Linked DNA regions of Homo sapiens: region 1 is linked to region 2. Evidence: fine-mapped expression QTL. A gene starts in region 2. The other region holds a variant in brackets. All regions are shown on one strand. Distances are from middle to middle. Region 1 has its middle 31 kb from the start of IL12RB2. Region 2 holds the start of IL12RB2 (interleukin 12 receptor subunit beta 2).

Region 1 (4,250 bases), 31 kb after region 2:
ACAAAAAAAAAGTTTCTGTTAATCCTCAGATGGTTCTTGTTATAGTTTAACATTTCTGTTAAGTGGGCGCCTTGAATTACTTGTTATCCAAGTGCAGCAGCTGCTCCTTAACACTTATTGTTAAAGACATTAACTGGCTGTCTTCTTCAACTTCTACTCTTTCTTGACCATTCTTGATAATTCTCTTTATCGTGATTTTTCTGCCATTAACCTTTTTAGTAGAAGTGTTATCGATTTGAAGTTGCCCATCCCACTACCAACATATGATGTGGAAGAAAATGAAGTGAGGCCCCCGTGACCGAGTGACCCAAATGAAGTATTAATAAATCCTATATCAAAATAAGAAAATCCACTTCTAAAAGATGGAAATCCACTGAATGTGGAGAAAAACTACCCCGACCCTTGGTTTCTGCTTCCACGGGGACCCCTTTGATTCTGAAACAAGTCCTCAAAAGAGTTCTTCAAAGAAGTCAAATGAAAATGGGTCCCTTCCACCAAAAAATTCCCTGAAGACATCATCTGGGTTACAGAATGTGAAGCCAAACTCAAAAGGACTGTCAAAATGACTTCCACCTCCTCCTCCACCATTTAATCCTTCTTTGCCATATTTGTCATAGATGTCCCGTTTTTTAGCATCTGACAACACCTCACACACCTCAGCTACTTGTTTGAATTTTCTCTCTGCTTTTTATTCTCAGGATTTTCATCTGGGTGCCACTTCAGTGCCAGTTTCTGGTGTGCCTTTTTAATATCCTCGGGTGAGGCCTCTCTCCACACTCCTAGAATTTCATAGTAATCCACCATGATTTTGTTTGTTTGTTTGAGACAGAGTCTCGTTCTGTCACCCAGGCTGGAGTGCAGTAGCACCATCTTGGCTCGCTGCAACCTCGCCTCTGGGGTTCAAGACATTCTCCTGTCTCAGCCTCCTGAGTAGCTGGGATTACAGACTTGTGTCACTATGCCCAGCTAATTTTTATATTTTTGGTAGAGACGGGGTTTCAGCACGTTGGCCAGGCTGGTCTTGAACTCCTGACCTCAGGTGTTCCACTTGGCTCGACCTCCCAAAATGCTGGGATTATAGGCATGAGCCGCTGTGCCCAGCCTAACCCATCATGCTTTAAGAGATTGCTGGAACAGGATGGAGGCGACTGACGGCAGGCGGGAGGCAGGGGCAGTGGCCGGGATCTCCTCCTGGCTCTGGCACTGCTGCGCTGGTGGTGGTGACTACTTGTGCTTTCCTCTCAAGCCTAGTTTTTTTTTTTTTTAATTTTTTTTTTATTTTTTATTTTTTAAATTTTTTAAATTTTACTTTAAGTTCTGGCATACATGTGTAGAACGTGCAAGTTTGTTACATAGGTATACATGTGCCATGGTGGTTTGCAGCACCTATCAACCTATGCTCTCCCTCCCCTTGCCCCTGACCCCCTGACAGGCCTCGGTGTGTGGTGTTCCCATTCCTGTGTCCATGTGTTCTCATTGTTCAACTCCCACTTATGAGTGAGAACACGCAGTGTTTGGTTTTCTGTTCCTGCATTAGCTTGCTGAGAATGATGGCTTCCAGCTTCATCCATGTCCCTGCAAAGGACATTAGCTCATTCTTTTTAATGGCTGCATGGTATTGCATGGTGTATATGTGCCACATTTTCTTTATCCGGTCTATTATTGATGGGTATTTGTGTTGGTTCCAAGTCTTTGCTATTGTAAATAGGGTTGCAATAAACATACATGTGCATGTGTCTTTATAGTAGAATGATTTATAATCCTTTAGGTATATACCCAGTAATCGGATTGCTGGGTCAAATGGTATTTCTGGTTCTAGATCCTTGAGGAATTGCTACACTGTCTTCCACAATTGTTGAACTAGTTTACACTCCCACCAACAGTGTAAAAGCATTCCTATTTCTCCACTGCCTCACCAGCATCTCTTGTTTCCTGACTTTTTAATGATCACCATTCTAACTGGCATGAGATGGTATCTCATTGTGGTTTTGATTTGCATTTCTCTAATGACCAGTGATGATAAGCTTCTTTTCATATGTTTGTTGGCTGCATAAATGTCTTCTTTTGAGAAGTGTCTGTTGATATCCTTCACCCACTTTTTGATGGGGTTGTTTTTTTCTTGTAAATTTGTTGAAGTTCCTTGTAGATTCTGGATATTAGATCTTTGTCAGACGGTTAGCTTGCAAAAATTTTCTCCCATTCTGTAGGTTGCCTGTTCACTCTGATGATAGTGTCTTTTGCTATGCAGAAGCTCTTTAGTTTGATTAGATTCCATTTGTCAATGTGGGCTTTTGTCGCCATTGCTTTTGGTGTTTTCGTCATGAAGTCTTTGCACAGGCCTATGTCCTGAATGATATTGCCTAGGTTTTCTTCTAGGGTTTTTATGCTTTTGAGTTTTACATTTAAGTCTTTAATCC[A/G]TCTTGAGTTAATTTTTGTATAAGGTGTAAGGAAGGGATCCAGTTTCAGTTTTCTGCATATGGCTAGCCAGTCTTCCCAGCATCATTTATTAAACAGGGAGTCCTTTCCCCATTGCTCCTTTCCCCATTGCTTTTTTTGTCAGGTTTGTCAAAGATCAGATGATTGTAGATGTGTGGTGTTATTTCTGAGGTCTCTGTTCTGTTCCGTTGGTCTATGTATCTGTTTTGGTACCAGTACCATGCTGTTTTGGTTACTGTAGCCTTGTAGTATAGTTTGAAGTCAGGTAGCGTGATGGCTCCAGCTTTGTTCTTTTTGCTTATGATTGTCTTGGCTATTCAGGCTCTTTTTTGGTTCCATATGAAATTTAAAGTAGTTTTTTCCAATTCTGTGAAGAAAGTCACTGGTAGCTTGATGGGAATAGCATTGAATCTATAAATTACTTTGGGCAGTATGGCCATTTTCACGATATTGATTCTTCCTATCAATGAGCATGGAATGTTTTTCCATTTGTTTGTGTCCTCTCTGATTTCCCTGAGCAGTGGTTTGTAGTTCTTGAGGAGGTCCTTCATGTCCCTTGTAAATCGTATTCCCACGTATTTTATTGTCTTTGTAGCAATTGTGAATGGGAGTTCACTCATGATTTGGCTCTCTGCTTGTCTATCATTGGTGTATAGGAATGCTTGTGATTTTTGCACATTGATTTTGTATCCTCAGAGTTTGCTGAAGTTGCTTATCAGTGTAAAGAATTTTTGGGCTGAGATGATGGGGTTTTCTAAATATACAATCATGTCGTCTGCAATCAGAGACAAGTTGACTTCCTTTCTTCCTATTTGAATACCCTTTATTTCTTTCTCTTGCCTGATTGCCCTGGCCAGAACTTCCAATACTATGTTTAATAGGAGTGGAGAGAGAGGGCATCCTTGTCTTGTGCCGGTTTAAAGGGAATGATTCCAGCTTTTGCCCACTCATTATGATATTGGCTATGGGTTTGTCATAAATAGCTCTTATCATCTTCTCAAGCCTAGTTTTTAAACAATTTATTACTGCTGAATCTCAGCATGTTTCACAGATATGTCTTTCATAATTCCTCTATTACACACACCCGCTGACCTTAATATACTCTTGAGTACAATTGCTATATTCTTGGTATTGTACACGTTATTTCTTACTACCAAGAAGAAGCCTCTAGTCTTTCATGACAATTTAAAGACACAAGCTAAATACCAGTCCCCATCCCTTGAGGAATTCATAGTACAGCACAGACACATGGGGTGCGAGCGAGGTGAATACATTCAAAACCAGCTCCACCACTTATGACCTAAGTGGTGCTGGGCAAGAAAAAGCATCTCTCTGACTCAGTTTCCTCAGTGTAAAATGGTGATAATAATATCTACCTCACAGCTTGTTTGGAAGATTAAGTTAAATAATGTGTGGGAAGAGCCCAATATGAATTCATTGCAGATACATTTTCTTTGTGCACTGAGATTTAGTTTCTGTCAAGTTTGTGTGTTCGTGGTTATGACACCCCTAAAGGCTATTCACAGCAGGAGATGTGGGAGCTGACACTTAAGTCATTTCTTCCCCAGTTTATGACAAGGTTACCTGGTTTCCACTCAAACACAGATAAAGGTGCTTTCTCTTTTACATGCTACACCACATCAAACTTAGTATCGTGCAAAAGAGTTTTGCTTACACAGTCATAGAAAAGGAAATTTGCATCAGTTTGCTTGAACATTTTGGTTAGCCATACTTTACTCACATTCTGAAACTCAGTCATGTAATTCAGAGGGGTTTTTCTCTTCTTAGATGATTTGCAGTATATTTATCCAGGA
Region 2 (4,250 bases):
ATGAGACACCGTGTCCCGCCATTCTGCACAAATTTATTTGTAGGAGTTGACAGCAGTGCTGTGAGCGTAATTACAAAGATGACAAATAATTTGGTAGAGAACAAAGCAGGTGCAGCAATACAAAAATAAGTCCACAACTGAGAAATGATGCCCAATACCTACTGTACTTGGCGGATTCTTCTACCTTAAAAATTACATGTGTGCTTTCGAATTTTTTTTCACACTAAAACTCATTCTAATACAGAAAAGATTCCGTTTGTCAAAGTTTGGGAATTTATCAGCCTATGTAATGAACATGACATTCAAGAGGCATGACATATGGAAAAGAGCATATTGCAAACTTTTCTGGAGGCTGTTGTGCCTAACAGATAGTGTAATGTATTGAGGATTTCACATTAAAATAGGGAAGGAAAGTGTTAGCTCTTAGCCACTAAGGTCCTTTTAGTTATGTGTTGGACAGAGAAATAGGGCACTGTACCATTCCTATTAATGGAAAATGAGAATCCAACGTTTGTTTGTTCAAGTGGAGGTGGTTATAAGGTTCTGAGCCAGAGAGGTGGAAACAGAAGGAACACAGTTTTGAGCCAGAAACCTGTAACTCTCTAACTGTGTGAAACATGTAAGTTTCCACATCTGTAAAATGGGAATACTAATAACAATTTCACCATGTTTTTAAGGAATTAGATAATATATATCCAAAAACCAAATACATAGTAGGTGCTCAACAAAGATGTTCATCTACACAGAGCACACACATAGCAGATTATAACAATTATCTAGAGTTTTAAAAATGGGGAAAAAAGGACTAATTTAGCTTTATTCTTTATATATATATGTGTATGTGTGTGTGTGTATATATATATATATGTATATGTATGTATGTATTTATTTTTAAGACAGAGTCTCGCTCTGTTGCCCAGGTTGGAGTGCAGTGGCCCCATCTTGGCTCACTGTAACCTCTGTCTCCCGGGTTCAAGCAATTCTCCTGCCTCAGTCTCCCGAGTAGCTGGGATTACAGGTGTGCGTCATCATGCCCAGCTAATTTTCGTATTTTTAATAGAGACAGGGTTTCACCATGTTGGCCAGGCTGGTCTTGAACTCCTGACCTCAAGTGATCTGCCCACCTTGGCCTCCCAAAATGCTGGGATTACAGGCGTGAGCCACCGTGCCGGGACCCTGTTCTTAGACAAGGTCTATTTGTATGCTTTTAGGTTACTATTTGTAAGACCTGGATCTAATGGTACAGATACATAATCCCGTACAATGCTGACACTGATATTTAGTGTGTCCTAGGGAGATGAGGAGGGCCTCATAGTTCACAAAGGAAGGGGCATTTCACAGAAGAGAAAACTGAGGCTGGCCAATTTGCTTGCACCAGAGCATCTTGCTAGTAACTGGCCAGGCAGGGACTCGGGGTCAGTCCAGAGGCCACAGGAAAGACTGCTGAGACAAGGTTAGTTCACCCTCATCCGGGACTACGGAAGGCCCCCCCCAATATCTTACTCACATTTGATACATTTTCAAGCAACGGGAGCCACGTCTGTGGGCCTGAACCAAGGCTGGACCCTCAGGGGTGCCCTCTGCCCTTTTCCAGTCGCCGTCCCCTCCCTTCCGTTTGAGCCCACCACTCTGTGCCCCGGCCCAGAGAGTACCTTGGAGGCTCAGTCCGCGCGCTCCCTCCCCTCCATCCAGCCAAACCACCACCCAGTACCTCCAAGTGAACATCTGTGCCCAGGGCGTTAGGACTGTGATGAAGAGAAGCCATTTCGGATCGTATTGGAAGACTTTAAAAATATATATATACATATATATATATAAAGAGAGAAGCCGTCGCCGAAGCCCCCTCGGGAGACGCGAGACACGGAATCCCGGGCACGCAGACACCCCGCTGGTCCGGGATCCTGGGGCTCTCTCTGTCCCCGACCCCGAGTCACTGGTCACTCACCACGTGTCGCCTGCCAGCGGGCGCGGTCCCGGGCCTGCGGGGACCGGGTGGCCCCGGTGCTCTGGGCCGCACGTGTCGCGCTCTCCGCGCTCTCTGCCGGCGCTCGGGCGTTCCCGGTGCCAGCGCCCGCCCTCCCGCCTCCGCCTCCCGCCTCTGCGCCACCAACTCCGGGGTGGGCGCGGGGAGCTGGCGGCGAGTGAGGATCGGGCCGGGGCGGGGGTCGGGGCTGGGCGGTGGCCGCAGGGCGGAGAGGACTCGCTTCTCAGTTCAGCTCTGGAAGCGCAGCCGGGCGGGCGCCCGTGGTTTCCACCCCGCGGGTCGAAGCGGGCTCGGGTGGGATTCTGCCACCTGTGGGCTCTGCTGTGTCGCCTTGAGCAAGATAATTCTCTCTCCACCGTCAGTTTCCCCTCATATAAAATGCGGATAATAAAGCCTGTCTCATAAGACGGAGCAAGGGTTGACCGAGGTGAGGTGCGTTTATGCACCAAGATATGATAGGCGCGATAAAATCGTGTGCTCAGCGTTCACAGCCATAGAGACGTGGCACTTTGTTGACAGCCATCAGGGAACTTTCCTCGCAGATGTCCTTTCTCTGTGCTCTGCACCGCCCAGCTCTTACCACACCTGAGCGCCGAGGCCTCCCAAGTGGGCTGTGCACAAGACCGCCCACTGGAGTGCGGGCAGAACATACTGGAACTTCCATTTGTATTTGCTGTCTAAAAAATGAGAAAAAAGTTAAACTTGAACAGATGGCGTGTCACCACTCCCGTATAGGTCCCGTGTTATAAGTGGTGTTCTCAGGCAAGAGGGAAAACTGCCCAGAGTACAGAGGGGTCGGCAGCTCTGCATAATATTCATGACATAATATTTATGACAATATTACTTAGAAAAAAACTGTATTTAAACCTGTAAAGACAGACTCTCACTCTGTTACCCAGGCTGGTCTCAAACTTCTGGCCTCAAGCAATCCTCCCGCCTTGGCTTCCCAAAGTGCAGGGAATACAGGCCTGAGCCTCTGCACCCGTCAGCTTAGATTTCTTTAAATCTAAGACTTCCTTAATTATAAGATATACCATTATTTATGCGCTAGTAAGAAATAAAAAGAACTGCCAGGTAAACAATAACAATGCTTTCTCAACATTTAGAATCTTTTAAACTAAAATTTTATTTAGTTTAGAGATTTTATTTAGATATCTCTAAATAAAATTTAGATTTTAAACATATGTATATTATCTATCGAATTTTTTTTTAAGTCCCCCCCCCTCCCCCACCCCGTTGTCTCTGGAGTTTTCTTCTAGTCCACTGAGCCCAGTACAGGTTTGCTGAGCCCGCAGAAGTGGACAACTGCATACCACGCTTCTGGGCATTACCTTAAAACCGCTCTCAATGTTTGAGATGTTAAATATGAAAAATGTACATCTTGGAATCAACAATGTACAGTAGATTGTCTTTATGGGATTGTGACATACTGTAGTTTACATGCTTTAGTAATTTATCTACATGAATAATTTTACTAAAATCTTTTAAATCGTAGAATCTAGAATCTTAATATTACTTTGTAATGAGATGATACATAATTGTAGAAATCATTTGTAACAAAGATTTTAAAAGTTGTCTTAAAGTGAGTTATTTTCTTTATTTTTACAAAAAAACCCCAAATATCCTAAATTTGCTGATCTTTTCTGTATTGATATATGGCTCTCAGTACATGTTATCTAATAGATCTTTTTGAAGAACAAAAAACCCCAGAGGTTTATTTGTTGTTTCTTCAAGGTAATTTTCACACCAAGTGATACGTTGTTATGAAGAGACGATTTGAAAACAAATATTTCGAAGTGTTCCCATTATTGTGTGTTTTTCTTACTGAAGATTTTATGATTGTCATCACAGAAAATGCTTTTAAAAACTCGGAAACAATTTGCTATTTTGTTTCAATCTTTTAATTGAGCAGTTCAGTGGATTTTAAATCCATTTGTTAAAAAATATAAAAATGCAGCAGCTTCTCATTACTTTAAAAACTGATTGATATCAAGAATAAGATTATGATAGCCAAATGTTATAACAATCTTGCATAATTCATGGATTTTTCAACACTTTTTAGTGAGAAGGAAGGCTTTTAGTTTTGTTAATAAATCAATAATTTCAAAAATGCATTTTACTCTATCTCATTTAAAAATTTAATTTATATATTTGTGTGTGCATATGTGTGTGTGTGTATATACACACATATAAATATACATATGTTTTTCTGTTTTTTTTTTTTTGAAACAGCGTCTCACTCTGTTGCCCCGGCTAGAGTACAGTG

What was found. PIP is the estimated chance that this variant, and not a neighbour inherited with it, causes the effect.
Region 1: its variant is the best candidate, but not a certain one, in a credible set for the expression of IL12RB2 in whole blood (INTERVAL, PIP 0.54).

The regions. Positions count from the first base shown.
Region 1 is chr1:67,274,606-67,278,855 of GRCh38, reverse strand. It overlaps the pseudogene DNAJB6P4. Among named protein-coding and RNA genes, the nearest start is that of IL12RB2, 31 kb to the left of the region's middle. The variant A/G (reference allele first, on the strand shown) is at 2,418.
Region 2 is chr1:67,305,663-67,309,912 of GRCh38, reverse strand. It overlaps IL12RB2 (interleukin 12 receptor subunit beta 2), which reads right to left and starts at 2,040. Exons shown (of 17, transcript NM_001374259.2): 1 at 1,946-2,040. RefSeq lists a silencer at 1,988-2,177 and enhancers at 2,638-2,687, 2,718-2,817.